Homo sapiens: one gene and its partners. The protein of the gene in region 1 interacts with the protein of each later gene in a pairwise test. Each region holds a gene or a part of one and is shown in the gene's direction. Other genes may lie near its edges.

Region 1 (8,202 bases):
ACACCACACCTGGCTAATTTTTGTATTTTTTTTTTTTTTTTTTTTTTTTTTTTTTTTTTTTTTTTTTTGTGACAGAGTCTCACTCTGTCGCCCAGGCTGTAGTGCAATGGCACGAGCTCAGCTCGCTGCAACCTCCACCTCCCAGGTTCAAGCGATTCTCCTACCTCAGCCTCCCAAGTAGCTGGGACTATAGGTGCCCGCCACCATGCCCGTCTAATTTTTATATTTTTAGCAGAGATGGGGTTTCACCATATTGGCCAGGCTGGTCTCAAACTCCTGACCTTGTGATCCACCCGTCTTGGCCTCCCAAAGTGCTGGGATTACAGGCGTGAGCCACCTCACCCATCCTAATTTTTGTATTTTTAATAGAGACGGGGTTTCGCCATGTTGGCCAGGCCAGTCTCGAACTCCTGGCTTCAAGTGATTGGCCCGTCCTCTGCCTCCCAAAGTGCTGGGATTACAGGCATGAAACACCTGCCCGGCCAGAACACCCACCTTCTTTAGCATCAGAAAACTCCACGGTGATGGCAGCTGTATAAATGGATGGAGTGCGGAAAAAAACTTAAGCTCCAAGATTGCCTTGAATTCTGATTCATTCTGTACCAGAAACTAAACATTCAGAAGACAATTGTTCAAGGCCAGGCACAGTGGCTCACACCTGGAGTTCAAGACCAACCTGGCCAACATGATGAAACCCCCTCTCTCCTAAAAATACAAAAATTAGCCAGGTGTGGTGGCGGGTGCCTGTAATCCCAGCTACTTGGGAGGCTGAGGCAGGAGAATCACTTGATCCCAAAGGTGGAGGTTGCAGTGAGCCAAGATCGCACCACTGCACTCCACCCTGGGTGACAGAGCAAGACTCTGTCTCAAAAAGAAAAAAAAAGGCACTTGTTCAAGAGTAGGGCTGTCCACAGTTAGACCCTGCTAAGGAATGACTGTTCGTTATCTCACCTCCTAATTACAGGGAAAGAGTGTGGTCTGGCCCCACTCAGATCATATATTCATTCTTGATTAATTCAACTATGGGTGGGGGAGCAGAATTACACAGTATTTACACAGCTATCTGGGACTCACTGCTGTTGGTGAGGAGGGCAGTTAAAGGGGCTGTTGTATGCTGATAGATACTCTACAAAGACCGTACCATGTTGAGCATATACTTCCTAGACTAAGTTCATTTCCCTCAACACTCCATGCCAGAGGCTCTTAACCCAACTGCCCATTAGAACCACTTGGGATGTTGTGTTTTTGTTTTTGTTTTTTAATACCAATGCCTAGGCTGAATCCTAGACCAATTATTTCAGAATCTCTGGGAGCAGGTCCCAGGTATCAGTATTTTTTTTTTAATTCCCTAGGTAATTATAAGGTGATGCTACAAAGAACCACTTTTTTTTTTTTTTTTTTTTTTTTTTTGAGATGGAGTCTTGCTCTGTCACCCAGGCTGGAGTGCAGTGGCGCGATCTTGGCTCACTGCAACCTCCACCTCCCAGGTTCAAGCAATTCTCCTGCCTTACCCTCCTGAGTAGCTGGGATCACAGGCATGTGCCACCATGCCCAGCTAAATTTTTTTTGTATTTTTAGTAGAGACAGGGTTTCACCATATTGGCTAGGCTGGTCTCAAACTCCTGACCTCAGGTGATCTGCCTGCCTCAGCCTCCCAGAGTGCTGGGATTACAGGTGTTAGCCACCGCGCCCAGCCAAATAACCACTTCTGTAGACCTTTGCTACTCAAATTGTCACCTGAAGACCAGCAGCATTGGCATCACCTGGGAGATTTATCAGAACTACAAGCTCACTGAATCAAACTCTACTCTTTGACAATGCTACCAGGTGACTTCGTGGACACACTAAGGTTTGAGAAGCATTACTCCAGACCCTGCTCCATGTGTGTGTCTTGGCATCTAATATTGCCAAGAAGAAGTCTGAGGCAGCCTGATTTTGCTTCCTTTTCAGTCTGGAAATTTGCAGAACTTTAAATCTTAAATTTTCGTAATTTCACTAGGATATGTCTTGTTGCTGGTTTTTCCCCATTAAAATTTCCTAGAATTTAGAGAGCATTTTCAGCCTGCAGATTCTCCTCCCTGATGAATGGCTTTTTCCTTCAAGTTTGTCCTATCAGGATTAGAACTAGGGTTAGATTTAAGGACACAACCCATTTTAAGATTATGTTGTCTTTCTAGTATGTATATATTTTTTAAATTGAGGTATCACTGACATACAATAAGCCATGCATAAAGTGTATGATTTGATAAGTTTTGCCATATGTATATGTCTCTCAAAAAATAACACAATCAAGATAACAAACATAATCATACCCCAAAAAGTTTCCTTATGCCCTTTTATAATCTCTCCATTCCAGCCTGCTCCTCTCCTGCCTCCAGCCCCAAGAAACCACCAATCTGTTTTCTTTTACTATAGTTTTCCTTTTCTAGAATTTTATATAAATGCTATCACACAGTATGTACTCTTTTTAAAGTTATTATTTTTTTTGGTGTGATGTCTTTCACAACACAGAATTATTTTGAGATTCACCCATGTTGTTGCATATATATCAGTAGTTCATTCCTTGTTATTACTGAGTAGTATTCCACTGTATGGATATGCCACAACTTAACTCAAATGATGGCCATTTGAATTGTTTCCAGTTTTTGGCTATTATAAATTAAGCTGTTATGAAAATTTGTATGCAAGTCTTTGTAATGTAAGGACATATGTTTTCATTTCTCTTGGGTAAATAACAAGAGTGAAATGGCTAGATAATAAGGTAGGTGTATATTTAATTTTTAAAGAATCTGCAAAGTTTTTCCAAAGAGACTGTGCCATTGTACATTTCCATCAGTATTGTATGGGTTCCACTTCTGATACATCTTTGCCTACACTTGATGTTGTCTCTACTTTTAGCTTTTCTAGTAAGTGTGTAATACTGTTTCACTGCGGTTTTAATTTGCATTTCTCTAATGACTAACAATGTTGAGCATCTTTTCAAATATTTAATTGCTTTCCATATATCTTCTTTGGTGAAGTATCTGTTCAAATCTTTTGCCTATTTTTAAAAATTGGTTTATTTTCTTATGAGTGAGTTTTGAGAGTCCTTTATATATTTTGGAAACAAGTCTTTTATCAAATATTTTTGGTATTTTCTCCCAGTCTGTGGCTTGTCTTTTCATTCTCTAAAAGTATCTTCTGAAAAGCAGAAGATTTAACTTTGATTAAGTCCAATTTATCATGTTTTTTTCCACTGGCTAATACTGTTTAGAATTTGTGGTGTATATGTATGTACGTTTATGTGCACCCACTCATGGTAAATGTTCATTTTAATAGGTTTAGCGAAGGGACAGTATGCACATGTATGTCCTTGTCATGCCATTGTTTCTGGAAATCTAATTATTTAAAACAAGTGCTGTGCATAAACTTTAAAGTGAAAATACTATAGATTTTATAAAATGAACTGTTTCTGTGACAGTTAAAATCTCTGTGCTAGGTGGCCCCACAATGGCTCCCAATGGTTCTCATATCCTGGCATTCAAACCTTGTGTATCTCTTCCCACACTGAATCATGACTAATCTGAGGAGAATGTATTGAGGAAATCATGATGCATGATTTCCAAAACTAGGTCATAAAAGCTTTGGCCTTGGCCTCTTGGATTGCTCACTTTGGGAGAAAGCTACATGCCATGTTGTGAAAACCCTCACATGGGAAGGAACTGACGCTTCCTGCCAACAACCAGCACCCACTTGACAGCCATGTGAGTAAACCACCTTGGAGGTGGATCCTCCAAACTCAGTCAAGCTTCAGATGACTTCAGCCCCACATGACACCTGACTGCAACCTCAGCAGAGACCCTCAGCCAGTACCACCCAGCCAAGCTGCTCTTGAATTCTGGGTCCACAGAAACTGTCAAAAGATAACAATGTTTATTGTTTTTAGCCACAAAGCATTAGAGTAGTTTATTATCCAGCAGTAGATACATAATATACTCTCCATGGCAGGACTTGTTTTGAAAGTGGTGGATAAATCTAATTCCTGTGGAAGGAATAACTAAAATCTGTTTCCAGGCTGGGCCGGGACACACATCCCAGTACAGGGCAGGAAAGGGCTCTAAGCCAAATGTTAATAGCTCTTTCGCTAAACTTCGAAAATTGTCCTTAAAAAAATCTATTTCCCTAAAGCACGCCACATATTGGAGTCCCAGCAGCACCTATTTTGTGTCTTCAAAAAACACAATTGGAAAACAAAACAATACAAACTCACGAGTACATACTATGTGCCAGGCACAACTGTAAATAATTTACCTATCAATTAACTAATTTAATGAATTAACCCTGAACAGCCTCAAGAGGTTGGTACCACCATCATAATACCCATTTAATAGACAAGGAAACCGGGGCAAAGAAACTTGCTGCAGGTCACACAACTAGCAAGTGGTGCAGCTGGGTTTCTGGACCTACGTAGTCCATACACATTCGGCCTTCTGAGTAATGGGTTCGCCTTTCCCCACACCCACTTTTCCCACTGCAGCGCACCCACACAATCCAGACAGTTTTGGCGCATGTGAAGGGCGCGATGGTCCCTTCATTATCTGGAAGGACACCCAGAGTGGCAAATGCCAGATAACCACGAATAATACCCAGGATAGTAACCATTCTGTGGCCTGAGCTGGCCAGACGTCATGCCCCGAAGGAGCTACCAGGTGTGGGCGCTGCAGGACCCCTGCCTGGGGCCGCCCGCTCGGGCCCGTGTTGTCTCAGGCAGTAGGGACACTGGCGCTGACGGCGGGGGTAGGAAACCACAGAGACTGGCAACTTCCCAGGTTCCTAGAGAGGAGGGGCATGGAAAACGCACTTCCGGCGGAGGGTCTCAAGCTTTCCCCGGTGTCGGCGGCAGGTGGAATTTCCACGCTTTATCTGCGCCTGCGCCGCGCGGGATTCGCGGTCCGAGCTGAAGAGGTTCGCGGTCCGGGTAACTGATTGGTTTTCCTGGGGCTTGTTCTGCCTGGTTTTGCAACCCCTTTGCTTTTTGGGGTGAGGAGTTGGCGGAAAGGAGAGGGGCCCAAGTAGCACAGAGGGCATTTGCGGGGTGCGAGGCAGCATCAATCTCACCGGTGCTTCTTTATTTTCTCTTCAGTTTCACTTCTCCGAACCCTGAGGCAGTGTGTGAAGCTGGGACGCCAGCCATGTTCCAGACCGCTTGGCGCCAGGTGAGTGAGCATCCTCTCCCTCCCTCCCACCCTTTAGATGTCAAGAGAGAGCAGGTGTCACCTCTGCATTCAGATCTTGAGTTGTGTAGGCCAGTGGCTTCCATTGTGCATCTGTCACTATGAGAGGGATGGAGAGGTGAGAATGCCCAAATTAAGACTAGAAAACTAGTGAGTGTGGGGGGATTGGTTGGGATTTGGCATTTGAAGCCAGCTTAAAAATAAAAATTATGAAATGTGGAAATCTGCATTATTACATCCAATAAAGACCCCTTTCACCCTAGTCCGCAGGCTTGGAGAAGTACTTACTTCTTCAGTATAGCAATTCTAGTAACTGTTTTGTAGATTCCATTGTATTTTCTACATAGGTCATCTATGAGTAAAGATAGTTTTACTCCTTTCTTTCCAGTCTGGATGCCTTTTATTTTATTTTGTCTTGCCTTACTGCACTGGCTAGAAGCATTATTTCAATATTGAACAGAAGTGGTGAGAGCAGATATCTTTGTCTTATTTATGCTTTTAAAGTGAAAGCATTCAATCTTTCACACTGAAGACTGATGTTCACTGTAGGTTTCTTGCTTTTTTGTTTTGTTTTGTTTTGTAAATGTCCTTTATCAGGCATTCTCTTCTAGTACTACTTTGGTGAGAGTTTTTATAGGAATGGATGTTGGATTTTGACAATTGCTTTTTCTGTGTCTATTTAGATGACCATATGGTTTTTTTTTTTTTTTTTTTTTGAGATGGAGTCTTGCTCTATCGACAGGCTGGAGTGCAGTGGCGCGATCCTGGTTCACTGCACCCTCCACCTCTGGGGTTCAAGCGATTCTCCTGCCTCAGCCTCCCGAGTAGCTGGGACTACAAGCACGCGCCACCACACCCAGCTAATTTTTGTATTTTTAGTAGAGACCAGGTTTCACCATGTTGGCCAGGATGGTCTCGATCCCTTGACCTCGTGATTCCCCCACCTTGGCTTCCCAAAGTGCTGGGATTACAGGCGTGAGCCACCGTGCCCAGCCTCTCTTTGTTAATGTGGTGAATTACATGATTTTTCTTTCAAATATTAAACCAACTCTGCGGTGGGATAAAACCGACTTCGTCATGGTGTATTATTATTTTATTAGTACTATATATTGAATTTAATTTGTTAAAATTTTATTTAGAATTTCTGTATCTATGTTTATGAGGTATTGATTTGCAGTTTTCTTTTCTTGTGATGTCTTTGTTCCATAGAATGAGAAATATTCCCTCCTCTTTAATATTTTGGAAGAATTTATGTAGAGTTGACTGCATTTCTTCCTTAAATGTTTGGTAGAATTCAACAGTGAAGCTATCTAGGCATGGGGTTTTCTTTCTGATAAGGTTTTTAAGTACAGTTTTGAGTCCTTTGGTAGATACAGGGGCTACTCTGGTTATCTCTTTTTATTTATTTATTTTTATTTTTTGACAACGGTTTTCTCTATGTTGCCCAGGCTGACCTCAAATTGGGCTCAAGCAATCCTCCCCGCTCAGCCTCCCAGGTACCTGGGACTACAGGCATGCATCACTACGCCCAGCTTAAATGAGTTTTGGTAACTTGTGCCTTTCAAGGAACTTATCCATTTTATCTAAGTTGTAGAAATTATTCACATAAAGTTGTTCATAATATGTGCTTATCTTTTATTACCTGCAGTGATGTCACTTCTTTTATTACTAATATTAATGATTTGTGTATTCTCTCTTTTTTTCTGGTCACTGGCTAGAGGTTTATGAATTTTATTAATTTTTCTTTAAGAACTAGCTTCTGGTTTCATTACTTTTCTGTTTTATGTCATTAGTTTTCACTTTGATCTTTAATGTCTTTTTTATATTTATTTTGTGTTAAATTTGCTATTCTTTTTTTAGTTTTAAGGGGGAAGCTGAAGTCACAGATTTGAGATCTTTCTTTTTTTTTTGTTTTGTAAAATAGGCATTTAGTGCTATACATTTCCTCCCAAGTACCGCTTTAGCATTATCCCGCAAATTCTAGTACATGGTGTTTTCATTTTCATTCAGTTCAAAATACTTTGTACATTCTCTTATGGAAGTGTGTTACTGACTTTACAAATATTTGGGGATTTTCCAGGAGTCTTTCTGTGATATCAAATTTAATTGCATTACAGTCAGAAAACATACTTTGTATGACTTGAATCATTTTGATTTTATTGAGCTTTCTTTTATGGCCCAGAATATGGACTGTCTACCTATCTACATTGTCTTATATGAATTTAGCCACTGCAGCTTTTTTTTTTTTCTTTTTTCCTTAGAGACAATCTTACTCTGTCTCCCAGGCTGAGTGCAGTGGTGCAATCACAGCTCACTGCAGCCTCCACCTCCCAGGCCTAAGTGATCCTCCCAAGGAGTTGAGACTAAGTTGAGACTACAGGTACAGACCACTGTGCTTGGCTCTCTTCTTTTTCCTAGAGACAAGGTTGCCTAGGCTCTTCTCAAACTCCTAGATGCAAGCCATCCTCCCGCCTCCACCTCCCAAAGTGCTGGGATTACAGGCATGAGCCACCATGCCTGGCCTTACAGTTTTCTTTGGCTAATGTTGTCATGGTATGTCTTTTTCTATTCTTTTGCTTTTAATTTATCCCTGTCTTTATATTTAACGTACATTTCTTGAAGGTTCTTCAAGCAATGTACTATCTTAAGCAGATAGTAGGTTCTTATTTGCTTAAAAGTCCAATATGACAATGTTTGCCTTTTGGGATGTTTAGATTATTTACATTTGATACCATTATTGATATGGCTGGATCTGGGCCTGTCATCTTTCTACTTGTTTTGTAATGGTCCCATCTGTTCTTTGTTTCCTTTTATTCTCTTTTTCTATTTTCTTTCTTTTCTTTTTTTTCTTTTGTTTGAGACAGAGTCACTGTGTCACCCAGGCTGGAGTGCAATGGTATGATCTCGGCTCATTGCAATTTCTGCTTTCTGGGTTCAAGCGATTCTTGTGTCCAGCCTCCCACGTAGCTGGGATTATAGGCACACACCA
Region 2 (7,291 bases), on another chromosome or scaffold:
TCCTTTCCGCCTTTGGACTCACACTGAAACATCGGCTCTTCTTGGGTCTATAGAGTCTCCTCTTTTCAGACTGCAATTTGCACCATCGGCTCTCCTGGGTCTCCAGCCTACTGACTGCAGGTCTTGGGACTTTTTCACCTTCGTAATTGTGTGAGCTAAATCATTGCGATAAATCTCTCTATGTACATCTCTTGTTGGTTCTATTTTTCTAGAAAACCCTGACTATTACAGCTCTCTGGTAACATCTATTTAAAAAGTCTCCCCACCAACTGTCATTCTCCCTTTTTTTAAGATTTGATCACTACTTTGCTCCTGGGAGTCTTGGCTTTCCTCTTGCTGTAAAACATGCTCTCTGCATGGGGATGTCACGAGGGGTCTGGAGCAGCGTCTGGTCTCCCAGGTCCATCCCAGTGCTCGTGGGTGGTGTCTTGCCTGGTGTGAACTTAGACTTCACACTCATCCTCAGCCTTCGGTGGCCCACGCCTTTACTAGCCTGATTCTGTCTGCGGCTTCAAGATCCTCCCGTCATATGGTCTTGAGTGAGATGTGGGATGTCTGTGGCAGAAGCAGCTGCCCTGTTTTCATGGGTGAACAGAATTAATGCCAGAATGTCCTTGCAGTATGTAAATATGGAGCTTGTCAGTCAACAAGGAAATAGACCTGTCTGCTTGGGTTAATACAACTTTTGGAGTCACTAAGAAGCAGGCAGTCAATGAAGGAAGCAGAAGGAACTGTGCAAGCCTCTCGGGACAGAGTCCTGTTGCAGTGCGCCAGAGAAACCCCACAGAGTGGCAGGACTGCAGTGAGAAGGAGGTGGCCAGTCATTCATGGAAGCTGCTGGATGCCAAGAGAAAGGCCAGCATGGGGGTGGGGGTCATAGGCACCTCAGATAGCTGGGAGAGTGAACAGTGAGCCGCACTTGGGAGGTGAGAGGAGACCCCTGCCATGAAGAAGAGTGGGTGGTTTTCGTTTTGTAGGTGTAGAAGTGTTCGTAACTCACTCAGGGAAGGCATGGTAGAGCCATAGCATGCAGGATGGAGTCTCCCTTGGTCCCCACACTGGTGTGATTGACGGACCCGAGGCCACCCGCCATTCTAGCGTGTGCAGCTATGGTTGTCCTGCATGGCTGCAATTGATGTGTTTTGAGATTAAATGACAAGATGGGATCTTAAAGGTGATTTAAATTATTTGGAGCTAGAACTAGACTGGAACTCCTTCATAGACTGTGTGTTTTATCTCAGCTTCCCAGTGCCTCACGTAGCACATGGAAAACAGTGGTTACTCAACACATTCTTGTCGGCTGGGTTCAAAAGGCTGAACGACATCAAAACAAGTGTAACTCCTCTTGTAGTCATGGACTTCAGATCAGAAATTTGATATTTATTGTTTTCCCTTTATTTTTAGTATTCAATATTCAAAAGATAATTCAGAAGACAGCAGTTTACCTTATTCAAACATTGCCTCATGCAGAACCACCAGAGATGAAGATGTTTATTTATTTTTTTTAAGTTGGAAGTTACCAGTTTATGTAAACTATAATACACCTCTGACACCTGTCTGTACATGCATTTAGTAAAGGCTTATTAAATTAATCTGTAAATATATTATACAGTGGTAAGCATAGTCAATTTTATACCTTACAAACTAAGATTGTTTAAAATCCAACAATTTAAAAATAGATTTCAAGTGGATGCTAGATACTTTTTTTCTTTCTTTCTTTTTTCTCTTTCTTTCTTTCTTTCCTTCTTTTCTTTTTTTTTTCCCAGGGTCTCATTCTGTTGCTCAGGCTGGAGTGCAGTAGCTTTTCACAGGTGCCATCATAGCTCACTAAAGCCTCAAACCCCTGGGCTCAAGCAGTCCTCCTGCCTCAGTCTCCCAGGTAGCTAGGACTGTAGGCACACATCACCATATCCAACTGATATAAATTTTTTTTTTTTTTTAGAGACCGGGTCTTACACTGTGGTCCAGGCTGGAGTATAGTGGCAGCACTACAGCTCACTGCAGCCTCGAACTCTTGGGCTCAAGAGATCCTCTCTCTTTAGGGACTCCAAGGCTTGATCCATTATTCTAGTTTATAAAACAGCAACTTTCCTTGACATGATGGCCCTCTCCGTTTTATCAGAATTTCTGTTTAAAACAACCCGTTTAGCTAGACAAATGAAGAGTGTTGGGGGTGAGCGGTTTTTGTGTGTAGATACTCCCATCCGTAGGAAAATAAAATGGTGCGGGGTATTCTCTGAGCACATTTCCAGGTGTGAGAGTCCCGTGCCTTTGAATGGAGGATCTTTGATTATAGGCATCACATGTCTGTAGAACATCAGGGCCTTCTGCTGACACCTGGAGCCCGTGTTGGGGATCTGTGCGTTCTTCCCAAAGTGGGCACGACTCCCAGCTGGCTTTTTGCTTCTTGACCTGGCCAGGCTGCATCCTGGACTGTGCAGCTGTGTGTTCACATGGGATTGGAGTCCAAACACAATAAGAAGAGTTATATCCGCTGCGGAAGCAGCAGCTTATCTGGAAGGAGGGACGAGGGCAGCGATGGAAGCTCATGATGTCATATGCCAAACCACATTACATGTTGGGTTTGCTATGCAGAGTGGATTGTTCACATAATATGTTTCTAATTTTTCATGCTTGATTTTTGCCTGTATGTTTGTACTCTGACATGTTTGTATTCATCCACCCGTCAATTCATTTGTTCATCCATTCCACAAGTATTCACAAAGCCCCTGGTCCTGTGTGTGTTCCCTGCTGGTGAGGTCTCAGCGACAGGTAGTGGGCACCCTTCCCAATGCTTACGGTTGGTAGAAGACGGGGCAATTGCATGAAAACACTGCACTTTTATAATGTATTTTTTAAAAGAGCCCACATAGACCAGTTTTCCTAATTGTCTCTGGAAAGCTCTGGTTGATTATTGATAAGTAATTGAATATCCCTTGCGGATCCCCGGTGACATCTAAAGATACAGGGACTGACTTACCGAAGCTGCTTTTGCATGTGTTGAAGGGCTGCATGCAGGAAGGGCTTGGGGACGTTCACAGATTTCTCCTTAGGAAATGGCTATGTTAGAGGAGCCTCCTGCAGCAGGGTTGATAGGGAGAAGCACTTGGGGTTTCAAAGGGGGAGGAGAAAATGGGCCCATTGGGGTCAGATCAAAGTAGGTAGTCAATAAAAGGTGCATTGAAAAGGATGCTTAAATAGACTTCTTTTGCTAATCTGACCTCTTCAGGCTTTACCTGTAGGGATCTGCCAGGCTCCTGGAACTCCAAGGCCTGAGCCAGCAAGCCAAGGGAGGCTGTCTGTCATGGCAGCCCCTCCTTTGATCGAAATCTTTCTGGTTAAAAAAAAAAAAAAAATTAGCTGGGTGCGGTGATGCACGCCTGTAATACCAGCTACTTGGGAGGCTGAGACAGGAGAATTGCTTGAACCTAGGATGTGGAGGCTGAAGTGAGCCAAGATAGGGCCAGTGCACTCCAGCCTGGGTGATAGAGTGACACTGTCTCAAGAAAAAAAAAAAAAAAAAAAAAAAAGCTTCCTGGCATGCAGGGTCCTTGCCTCTCTTCTGCCTCATTTCATTTACCCTCCTCCTTCCTTTTTTTGTCCTGTCACCACCCTTCTCCCCTTCTCTTTACTCTTTCTGTTTCCTTTTCCCTTTATTTTCCTCCAGCTTTGATACTTTCCCCACTCATACTTTGTTTTACAGTTTTTGAATCTGAAAATTTAAAAATAGATCACACTGATGAGCTTGTGAACTTTTAAAATTAGTATGAATTGTGAGTAGTAGAGTGCATTGTTGCTCCCTGGCCCTCTGAACCTTTATTCTTACATCCTTTTTATTTCTTTTTCTTTTTTTTCTTTGGAGACATGGTCTGTGTCACCATGAGGCTGTTTCCTTGAGGCTGGAGAGCAGTGATGCTATCATGGCTCACTGCAGCCTCGACCTCCTGGGCTCAAGATCCTCCCACCTCAGCCTCCTGAGTAGTAGGGACTACAAATGCATGCCACCACACCCGGCAAATTTTTTGTGTTTTTTGTAGAGATGGGGTTTCTCCATGTTGCCCAGGCTGGTCTTGAACTACAGGGCTCAAACGATATGTCTGCCTCGGTCTCCCAAAGTACTGGGACTACAGGCATGAGCCTCTGTACCCGACCTATTCTTACATCTGAGTCAAAGCTGGGCTAGCGAGAGACTCAGAGATCAAAGCCTTCCCTGGGCCATCCCCAGACCTCCGAGCTGCACCTGGCACCTGCCTCACCCATTGCAGTTCCCTTGGCCTGGAGTCAAGCCTGTACCCTAAGATCCAGCTTTTTCAAATACCCTATTCAGGGCCGAAGGGGTAATGACATCATGGAATGATTTAGCTTGGTGAGGAATAAGAACTCCAGGAAACTGTGATTTGGAATTTGATTCAGTGAAATAAAAAGGAGGGGTTGCGCCTTATGTTTGGGCATCTCCCTGCAGGCTGTTGCCTGATGCTTTCAGCATTCCTGTGTACCAGCTAAGGAGCAGGAATTATTGATAACCTGTCAGGAGGGATGTGGAGTTCACAGAGAGTAAATGGATTGTACACAATTAGGTTAATAAGTCCTTGTAGAACCAAGATGTCCTACTTTTATTTGAAGAAATCATTCAGAAATGGGCTCTGATACCCTGATACATTTTTTAGGAGTCATTGCCCCCTGTCTTGCATAGTAAAGGCAGGCTTCCATGCAGTAAACTTTCACTGGGCTGTCCGTTTCTCCACTGCCTGCGAGGCATACCCAAGTCCATGAACAAGGCATCCAGGCCCTCATTGCCTTGGCTGTTGACTGGGTCTTCCATCTTCCTGGGCTCTCTGCCTACCCTACTCTGTCTCTCATGTCTCTGGCTTTGCCTACTCCACCCCTTGACCTGACCTGCCATATCACCTGGCTGACCTGTTCCTAGCACAGATAGCATCTCCTCTGGGATGCCTGCCTGCTCTCTCAGGGGCTCCTCCTCTGCGTGCCCATCATACCTGTGCACCTCCAGCACGCACTGAGTAAGGGGCTTGGTAGTCTGTTTGGTATATATCTCTTTTCCTCACTAGATAACAAGTCCCTTGAGGGGAGGGGCCTGCATTTTATTCATCTTTGTATCTTCTGCACTTTTCATGACTTTAGACACATAGTTCCAGCTCAACCAATGTTTATTCAGTGAATGAATGAGCAATCAGGTATTTATGGGATGTAAAAAATGCAAGTGGCTCATGACTGTAATCCTAGCACTTTAGGAGGCCAAGGCAGGCGGATCACCTGAGGTCAGGAGTTTGAGACCAGTCTGGCCAACATGGTGAAACTCCGTCTCTACTAAAAAAAAAAAAATACACATACACACACACACATACACACACACACAAATTAGCTGAGTGTGGTGGCGTGTGCCCGTAATCCCAGCAACCCAGGAGGCTGAGGCAGGAGAATCACTGAAACCCGGGAGGTGGAGGCTGCAGTGAGCTGAGATCATGCCACTGCACTCCAGCCTGGGTGACACAGCAAGACTCTGTCTCAAAAAAAAAAAAAAAATGCAAGTTATAGGAGATTTCTAATACAGGACAATAGGTATACTTTTAAACATGTTGTAATAGAAGGGAAGCTCTGAGCTTGCTTATTAGCTCATGGACTTTTTATTCTGATGCTCAGGGCTTGTGCAGTATGTAACTGTGTGGAACTCCTTCAGGGGCCTGCTTTCACACAGTGCATCCTGCTGTGCTCCTAGGTAGCAGCAGTTGCTCATTTTATGCTCTGCCCTGTTGGTTGGAGTAGAAATGCTCTCTGCTCTTTGTAGAACTCTAGTGTCCTCTTAGAAGATGAGGAACAAGGTAGAAGAGGGATCCACCACTCTCAGAAAGAATTCTGTAGAATTAGGAGCTGAACCACAGGGCCAAGTGCCTCCTCCCAGGTGGACCCACTGAGCAGATAGCAGCTGCTACTGTTCCTGCTGGGAGCTGGTATCACTGATAATGATATTCATCATATCACTGATGATGACATTCACCATGATGACATTCATAACCTCAGTCGTACTTTGAGCAAATGTGGAGCCCTACTTATTTTCAGAGTTTATTCTCTTAGATTTATTTTTTTATTTTTTTAGACGGAGTCTCGCTTTGTCGCCCAGGCTGGAGTGCAGTGGCACGATCTCAGCTCACTGCAAGCTCTACCTCTTGGTTCACGCCATTCTCCTGCCCCAGCCTCCCAAGTAGCTGGGACTACAGGTGCCCGCCACCACACCCGGATAATTTTTTTTTTGTATTTTTAGTAGAGATGGGGTTTCACCGTGTTAGCCAGGATGGTCTCAATCTCCTGACCTCGTGTTTCACCCGCCTCAGCCTCCCAAAGTGCTGGGATTACAGGCGTGAGCCACCGCACCTGGCCAGATTTTTTTTGTTTTTGTTTTTTTCTGTCCTGGTCCTGTAGAATCAGAGGAAGTGGAAAACACATATCAGGTATATGAGCACCGTGATCACGATTATTACCTCAGAGGAAAACAGGTGTACCCCTTTCACCAGCTGCCAACATAAATGGAGCTCTGCAGACATTAACAGAGGCTGTAGACTGTCTCCCTTCCCTAGCAGGGCTGGTGCTTGTCCTGACCCACACAGACGGCCTTTCAAGTTAGACTGGGAGTTCATTTTCTGTAAGTCAGACGGCTATTTGAGAAAGCTCAGTGGACCCTCTTTTTCATAAATATGCGTGGGCTTCAGTTTTTCCATCCATAGAATGAGGAAGTTGTCATAGATAATCTGGGGATTTGTTTCCAGCTTTTACAATTCCGCAATTTATAGTTCTCTGTCCTTTCATCGTTCTTATTTCAAATTCCCAAATTATTATTCTTATGTTTGTGGGCATGGAATGGGCAGTGAGCCTCTTGTCCCACAGCTAAATCACACCCTTTATTGGAAAAACATATATGTTGGAAAAACAGCTCTCAATTGTGATGAAATAAATGACAGCAACTTTCAAGGCCAATAACTGAACAATTACAGGAAAGCATTGAATCTTGTGCCAGCATGGCTGCTCCAACTCGAGATGGCTGCGGTACAAAGGATATTTATACGTTGGGCTTCAGAATAATAATTCAAGTGCTCAAGAGCCTCATCTTGTGATGTTATCACAAGAATGTCCAGACAATGTTTTCTTTAACTCCAGGAAGAGTGATTTAGAAGGACGGATCTTGCCGCATGTGTCCAGCTGCATATTTATTGCTCTTGGAAGAGAATTATTCTGTAAACACAGAAATATCCAAGAATGAATTCTTGAAAGATGATCT
Region 3 (7,291 bases), on another chromosome or scaffold:
TATTGTAAAGGAATTGTTTTCTTAATTTCATTTTTTGTTTGATTTTTGTGCATTAATCTGGTATTCTACAATCTTGCTGAATTATTTCATTAATTCTAATAGCATTTTACTGGAATCTGTAGGATTTTCTTATATAAGATCATGTCTTCTGGATGCATTTTATTTATCTTTCCTTTCCTCCTTCCCTTGCTTGCCTTCCTTCCTGCCTGCCTGCCTGCTTTCCTTCTTGCCTTCCTGCCTTCCCCCTCTCCCTCCCTCCCTCCCTCCTTCCTTCATTCCTTTTCTTTCCTTTCCCTTTTTCCTAACTGCCATGGCTAGAACTTCCAGTAAAATATTGAATAGAAATTGTGAGAGCAAATATCCTTGTGTTGTTCCTAATCTTAGGAGGAAAAAATTCAGTCTCTCATTATTAAGTATGATGTCAGTTGTGTGTTTTTTGTAGGTGCCCTTTATCAGGTTGATGTAGTTCACTTCTATTCCTAGTTTGTGGAGTGTTTCTGTCATGAAGGAATGTTGAAGTTTGTCAAATGCTTTTTCTGCATCTATTGAGATGAACTTTTTTTTTTTGCTTTTTCATCTATCAATATCATGTATTCCATTAATTGAATTTCAGAGGTCAAACCAGCCTTGCATTCCTGGCGTAAATCTCACTTGGTCATTGTATATAATCCTTTTTATGCTGTACTTGATTAGCTAGTAATTTGTTGAGGATTTTGGTGACAATATTTATAATAGATATTGGTCTGTAGTTTTTTGTGATATCTTTTGTTGTGATGTCTTTGGTTTTGGTATTGGGGTAATGCTGGTCTCATAGAATGAGTTAGAAAGTGTTCCCTCATTTTTTATTTTTTGGACAAGTTTGTGAAGAATTGGTATTTATTGTTTTTAAATGTTTGGTAGAATTCACCAGTTAAACCATCTGGGCCTGGGAAGTTTTCTGATTACTAATTCCTTTACTAGTTATAGGTCTATTCATATTTTCTATTTTTTTCTTGGTTCAGTTTTGGTAGTTTGCATATTTCTAGGAATTTGTGCATTTCATCTGTTTTCTAGTTTGTTGGTATATTGTTGTTCATAGTATTCCTTTATAATTCACTGTATTTCTATGAGGTTGGTAGTAATGTCCCTTCTTTTATTTCTTATTTTAGTAACTTGACTCTTCCCTCTTTATGCTTGTGTCTTAAGTCTCAGTTTTCTTTTCTATAAAATGGGTATAGTAAAATCTGCCTTGCAGAGTTATTGACATTGTCAGTAATCACCTTGGATCTTGTTAAAAAGCAGATTCAGTGGGTTTGCCATTTCTATCAAGTGTCCAGGTAATGTTGACGCTGCTGGACCAGGGACCATACTTGTATCCTGGTATCCTTCTGGCTCTCAGCTCTCTCATGAAAAGTGTTTATTAGGAGCATCTTCTGTCGCTTTAAGAATCCATTTTCCCAAGATGTTTAGTGAATTTCTCTCCAGGGCTGTGGGAGAGGAAGATACTCCCTTCCTCCTTGGCCCTCTCTGACTTATGTCCTTTCCTCTCAGTGGACAGCTCTGTGAGATCCCTCCCCATCTGCCTGCCCCCAAGAGCCCCTGTGAGGGGACTGAGTGCCAGAATGGGGCCAACTGTGTGGACCAGGGCAACAGGCCTGTGTGCCAGTGCCTCCCAGGCTTCGGTGGCCCTGAGTGTGAGAAGTTGCTCAGTGTCAACTTTGTGGATCGGGACACTTACCTGCAGTTCACTGACCTGCAAAACTGGCCACGGGCCAACATCACGTTGCAGGTGCGTGCCAGGGGGCTTGGTCACAGAGGGGAGTCAGGGAGCAGGCGACCCTGGCTTAGGCCAGAGCATCAGGATACATCCCTGCATGGTGCCTGGGGAACTGGAAGGACTCTGTGTAATCAAAACGTTTTGCATATGGGTATCAAAATCTCAGCTTGAACTAGTTTAAGCACAATTAGAAAGGTTATAGTGTCACAAAACCAGGGCAGGGGTGGACATGGTCTCATGGGTAACTGAATCCAGAAAACCAGGCTTGCCATCATCCCTTCCCACCATTTCTTGTCCCAGCTACTCCTCAGTGTCTGCCTCCAGTGCTGCAGACAGGCTTTCTATGTGTGCCTGGAATGTGGCCAGATTTAACTTTGGGCTTATACCTTTAACCAAATGTCCCTAGGGTCCCTTAACTCATCCTTTTCATGCCTTCAGTTCCATCTCAGAACATCTTCATGTTGAGGGGAAAATAAAGCAATTCCCACTTCAGCAGCATTGATGAAATATATCAATATTTTGCTAAACACTTCTTTTGGGGGATGGAGAGGAGAGTGGTTTATATTGCACAGCACATGATAAAGAATGTTAAACTCCTCTGTAGTCATCTTTCTCTTTCCCCCGAATTCCATTCCCTGTCACAAATGCCACATCTTTCTTCCCTCTCTTTTGTCCTCTTTTCCTTTTTTCTCAGAACTCTTCAGCCTCTCAAACATGCGCATTCTGCTCTCTTCCCCTACGTCACCTCTCCAACATCCTATCCACTTACATAGTCTACATGGCAAGACAACAGCTAGCCTAACCGCCAAAAATAAAATTCACCAAAACCCTAACCAGCCATTGCCTCGGGCACATCCTTGGTTTATCCTCATCTTTTACCAGACATTGATTTACAAAGGCTCTTCCTTGCCAGCTCTAATTCGGTCAGCTCAAGGAAGATCTCTGATTGGCCTGGCGTTAGTCACATGCCCATCTCTGAACCAGCTGCTGAGTCCAAGGAGATGGGGCAGTGTGACTGGACAGCTTGGGTCATATGCCCAGCTCCACAGACCAGGGGGCTCAGGGTCTTTACCAGAAGAAACGGAGGGAGCAGGACAAGGCAGGGAAAAATGATCATGGCTCCTACAGCATCTTAGAGGGATCTCCCTCCTGAGGCAAAGATCTCACTTTTGCTTGCACAGTTCCAGCGACAGACACTACCTTCTGAGTGGCTCCTTCCACTAGGCTTGGATGACTCTGGCTGTCAGAGAGCCTTCCTGAACTTGTCCTCTCTGTAGTTCCCACCCTGAGCAGTTAGCTCCCCAAGGCCCACAGGGCAAGGCTACCCACACCCAGCAGACAGGGGTCCCAGTCTAATTTTCCTCTCTGGGAAGATTGTCCTGAGGTCTCCTGGCTGCTCTTCCTGGCACAGAGTTTCCAGGCCTCAGGGACCCATCACCCTCCCCTGCCTGGACCTGGCCAGGCTGGCAGTGGATGGGGCTTGAACCAGAGGCTGCAGCCCCTATTGGTGCCCCCTGGAGGAATGGCCTTGGGGAGGCTGGCCAGGTGGGGGAAGAGCGCTCTGCACAGAGCATCTCTCTTCCAATCTTGGGTGCCCTCTCTGCCCCATCTGCTAGCCTGTGCCGCTGCTGCATGGGGTGGGGTGGGAGAGAAAGTGCCACTGCCCATCAGGTCTCCACGGCAGAGGACAATGGGATCCTTCTGTACAACGGGGACAACGACCACATTGCAGTTGAGCTGTACCAGGGCCATGTGCGTGTCAGCTACGACCCAGGCAGCTACCCCAGCTCTGCCATCTACAGGTAGGGCTTCCTTATGCCCCCCAGCTGCCCTCAGGGGTACGGGACTGCCAGGGCGAGGTCTCCTGGGCCAAAAGCAGGTGGTTATCGAGACCTCTAGAAACCTGGGCTGCCTGAGTTTGAAGGACACTTGAACCATCTGGGTTAGCCCCAGCTTGGGGCTGAGGTCTCTGAGGCCTGTGCAGTGGCCCCATCCTTCCCCATCCCACCACCACCTTAGAGGAGGCTCCTTAATGGGGAGGGGGAGACTTGTAAGTTTGAGACCCCTGCCTCAAACCTCTCAGCCTTCCCCAGGGAGTCAAAGAAGGGGAGTGAAAGGGATCATGCGATAGACCCTTGAGCCCCCACAGTCCTTTTCCTTAGATATTTGGTCTCCTGGGAAGCAGCTACTGGTGTTTCTGGGGAAGTGCCCAGGCAGGGATGGTCCAGACTGATGCCCACTCCCTGGAACGGGGAACCCCCTCTTCCTCCAGTGCTGAGACGATCAACGATGGGCAATTCCACACCGTTGAGCTGGTTGCCTTTGACCAGATGGTGAATCTCTCCATTGATGGCGGGAGCCCCATGACCATGGACAACTTTGGCAAACATTACACGCTCAACAGCGAGGCGCCACTCTATGTGGGAGGTGAGGACCTGGCCCTGGCGGGGCCTCTTTTGCTGTCTGGCCTGAGGCCAGCCAGGAGAGCTGGTGCCTAGGGACTGCACTGTGGGAAATGCCAAGTGGGAAGATGATCCTGGTGGTGGCCAAGCTGCAGGTGGACTGGCCTCGCTGCCTGGAGCCCAGCTGCTCTCTGCCTAGCCCAGACTGACCAAGGAGGATGGATGCTTGGGTTGGGTGCAAGGTCTGGCTTAGGGGAGGCCCTGGGACTGTCCGAGCTATCTGCAACACCTTGGGCACATTTCCTCTTGGTTTTGGGCTAGAAGGGGCTTTTCAATGGCTTCAGGTCCATTCCCAGTCTTGGGGCCCTCTGAGACCCAGAACCACTGCAAGAGACTCAGGCACAGAGTCCCTGTATCAACCAGGGACTGCCTCGGCTGGCCTTAGAGGCTTTGCAGGCTAGATGACCCCGTCTACCACCTGCAAGCATTTCTCGGTATTGATGAGCAGGCTGCTGGATGCAGTGGGGCCATCTCCACCCTGTGGGAGGCGTGCTGAGGCTGGGGCAGAGGTGAGGGATGGCCCTGGGCCTCAGCCCAGCTCCGCAGCTTACTCCTTGTGCAGCTTCAGGCCAGTCATGAGCATCTGTCAAATGGGGCTTAGCAAGCCCTACTTCAGAGGGCTGCTGAGAAGGGACAGCCACAAAAGCAGTGACCTAGCGCCACACGTGATGTCTCGGTCCTGCCCCTTTGCTACGGCTGGGGTCTCTGGGAGGTAAAAGCTAGCGTCCCAGGGAGAGAAGGCGCCTTGGCGAGGGAAGCCAGACTTTAGGAACAGGCACCTCAGAGCCACACGCAGCAGCTGGCCACCACCAGGCCTGATGCCCCAGCTCCAATCACAGAGGAAGCAGCTTTTCCCTTTCTTCTGGGCAAGGAGCCTGGGCCCTCCAAGGTGGCAAAGGACCTTGGATCAGGGTTGCAGAGATGAAGGACAGAGGCCGCAGGCAAGAGGGAAGGCCATGGAGCTGCCCAGACCTCAGGGGTGGGTGCCCGGCATAGCCCGAGCTTTACTCAGCCCAGCTCTGCTCCCTCCCCTACCCCAGGGATGCCCGTGGATGTCAACTCAGCTGCCTTCCGCCTGTGGCAGATCCTCAACGGCACCGGCTTCCACGGTTGCATCCGAAACCTGTACATCAACAACGAGCTGCAGGACTTCACCAAGACGCAGATGAAGCCAGGCGTGGTGCCAGGCTGCGAACCCTGCCGCAAGCTCTACTGCCTGCATGGCATCTGCCAGCCCAATGCCACCCCAGGGCCCATGTGCCACTGCGAGGCTGGCTGGGTGGGCCTGCACTGTGACCAGCCCGCTGACGGCCCCTGCCATGGCCACAAGTGAGCCTGGGGCACTGGGGGAGCCCTTGCCCCTGCCTACCTGTTCCTTCCCCATGGGAAGGGCTGCCTCACAGTTTTCCAACCCATATTAGAACATGTAGCCTAAGCCAGGGTTTTATTACTTTTATCTGGCTTTCACTTTTTATTAATAGGACAAGGCCTATAGGGACACACACATAGTCGCATGCAACTCCCTTTGTTTCAGTTTTGGGAACAGATTAAAGACCTGTGAAGTCAGGGCTGGGTGGGGTGGGCTGTGTCAGGTGGGGCGGGCTGTGTCAGGTGGGGCTTGGCTGGGTTTGTCCTCACAGCGCCTTTTCTCTGTCTCCTCCAGGTGTGTCCATGGGCAATGCGTGCCCCTCGACGCTCTTTCCTACAGCTGCCAGTGCCAGGATGGGTACTCGGGGGCACTGTGCAACCAGGCCGGGGCCCTGGCAGAGCCCTGCAGAGGCCTGCAGTGCCTGCATGGCCACTGCCAGGCCTCAGGCACCAAGGGGGCACACTGTGTGTGTGACCCCGGCTTTTCGGGCGAGCTGTGTGAGCAAGGTCAGGGGCCCCCCTCCTGACGTGCCCTCCCCAGGGTCCCCCACAAATTGCTTTAGCAATTTGACTCTTCCTCCCAGTCTCGGCAGCCCTTCTGTCCCTTCCCAGCCCTGTACCATGGGCTACTATGGGGCTTTCAGAGTCCCTCCACCCTCTGGGCACTGCTCCCAATCTCTCCTGGCCCAGTTTGCCCTGCAGCTCCCTTATTCAGGGTATGCGCCTCTTCTGGCTGGGGTCTCTCCTTGCAGAAGAGACCACCCAGGGTAACAGCTCCTGGCCCAACCTCTGCCTCTTGGCCCCATCACCTCATGACCTGGGAGCGGCAGCAGGAAGTCCGAGGGTTGGGGACTCCTTCCCAGGCCCTCCCTGGCCTGCTTGACCAAGATGGCTTCTGCTGGAATCCGGACTGCTAAGGCTGGGCAGGGAGAAGCTGGAGAAACCCAGAACTCAGGCACCTTAAGGGTCCCCTAGGCTATCCCCTCCCCAGCATGAATCCTTTTCATAATGTTATTGCCCCCGGGGCCTCCAGCCTCTCTTGCACGCCTCTAGCAATGGGGACCCCCCCTCCCTCCAGCAGTTCAGTCTGTCCTGGAGGGCCCTGACGCTAGGACCAGACTGTAGGCCCTGGGAGGAAGCTTGTGCATGTCAGTGGGAGGCGGAAGTATGCTGGGGACAGAGGTGGGGTCTGAGAGCCAAAGGATCCACCCCACAGATGCTGCCCTCCTCCTCCTCTTCCTCCTGCCTCCCTGGAGGCAGCAGCTCACCCATGGGTGTGCCCTGAGGCTTTCTCTTGGTGTCTGTCCCATCCAGAGTCCGAGTGCCGGGGGGACCCTGTCCGGGACTTTCACCAGGTCCAGAGGGGCTATGCCATCTGCCAGACCACGCGCCCCCTGTCATGGGTGGAGTGCCGGGGCTCGTGCCCAGGCCAGGGCTGCTGCCAGGGCCTTCGGCTGAAGCGGAGGAAGTTCACCTTTGAGTGCAGCGATGGGACCTCTTTTGCCGAGGAGGTGGAAAAGCCCACCAAGTGTGGCTGTGCCCTCTGCGCATAGCGCTGGGCGTGGACAGGCCGGTGAGGGCGGGCAAGGGGCCCCAGCCGCTGCAGCAGCGGAGACAGTCGCCAGCAGCTGGGCTGGGGTGCAGGTCATCACAGGACGGCTCCTGGGCAGCTGGGCCCTCCTGGGTGGGGTGGTGCCAGAGCAGC

The links. Proteins that work in one complex are often made in the same cells at the same time.
Region 2: the proteins of ZNF620 (region 1) and FHL2 interact in binary tests that used the Homo sapiens proteins (3 or more experiments, as listed by UniProt).
Region 3: the proteins of ZNF620 (region 1) and SLIT1 interact in binary tests that used the Homo sapiens proteins (3 or more experiments, as listed by UniProt).

The regions. Positions count from the first base shown.
Region 1 is NC_000003.12:40,501,182-40,509,383, forward strand, and holds the start of ZNF620 (zinc finger protein 620), read left to right. Parts: upstream 1-4,857; 5' UTR 4,858-4,957; exon of another isoform or gene 4,958-5,019; intron 5,020-5,122; 5' UTR 5,123-5,171; coding exon 5,172-5,195; intron 5,196-7,559; exon of another isoform or gene 7,560-7,593; intron 7,594-7,631; coding exon of another isoform or gene 7,632-7,766; intron 7,767-8,202. UniProt on the Homo sapiens protein: May be involved in transcriptional regulation.
Region 2 is NC_000002.12:105,389,052-105,396,342, reverse strand, and holds part of FHL2 (four and a half LIM domains protein 2), read left to right. Parts: intron 1-6,115; exon of another isoform or gene 6,116-6,236; intron 6,237-7,291. UniProt on the Homo sapiens protein: May function as a molecular transmitter linking various signaling pathways to transcriptional regulation. Negatively regulates the transcriptional repressor E4F1 and may function in cell growth.
Region 3 is NC_000010.11:97,000,960-97,008,250, reverse strand, and holds part of SLIT1 (slit homolog 1 protein precursor), read left to right. Parts: intron 1-1,530; coding exon 1,531-1,768; intron 1,769-3,427; coding exon 3,428-3,558; intron 3,559-4,028; coding exon 4,029-4,183; intron 4,184-5,258; coding exon 5,259-5,547; intron 5,548-5,881; coding exon 5,882-6,093; intron 6,094-6,900; coding exon 6,901-7,139; 3' UTR 7,140-7,291. UniProt on the Homo sapiens protein: Thought to act as molecular guidance cue in cellular migration, and function appears to be mediated by interaction with roundabout homolog receptors.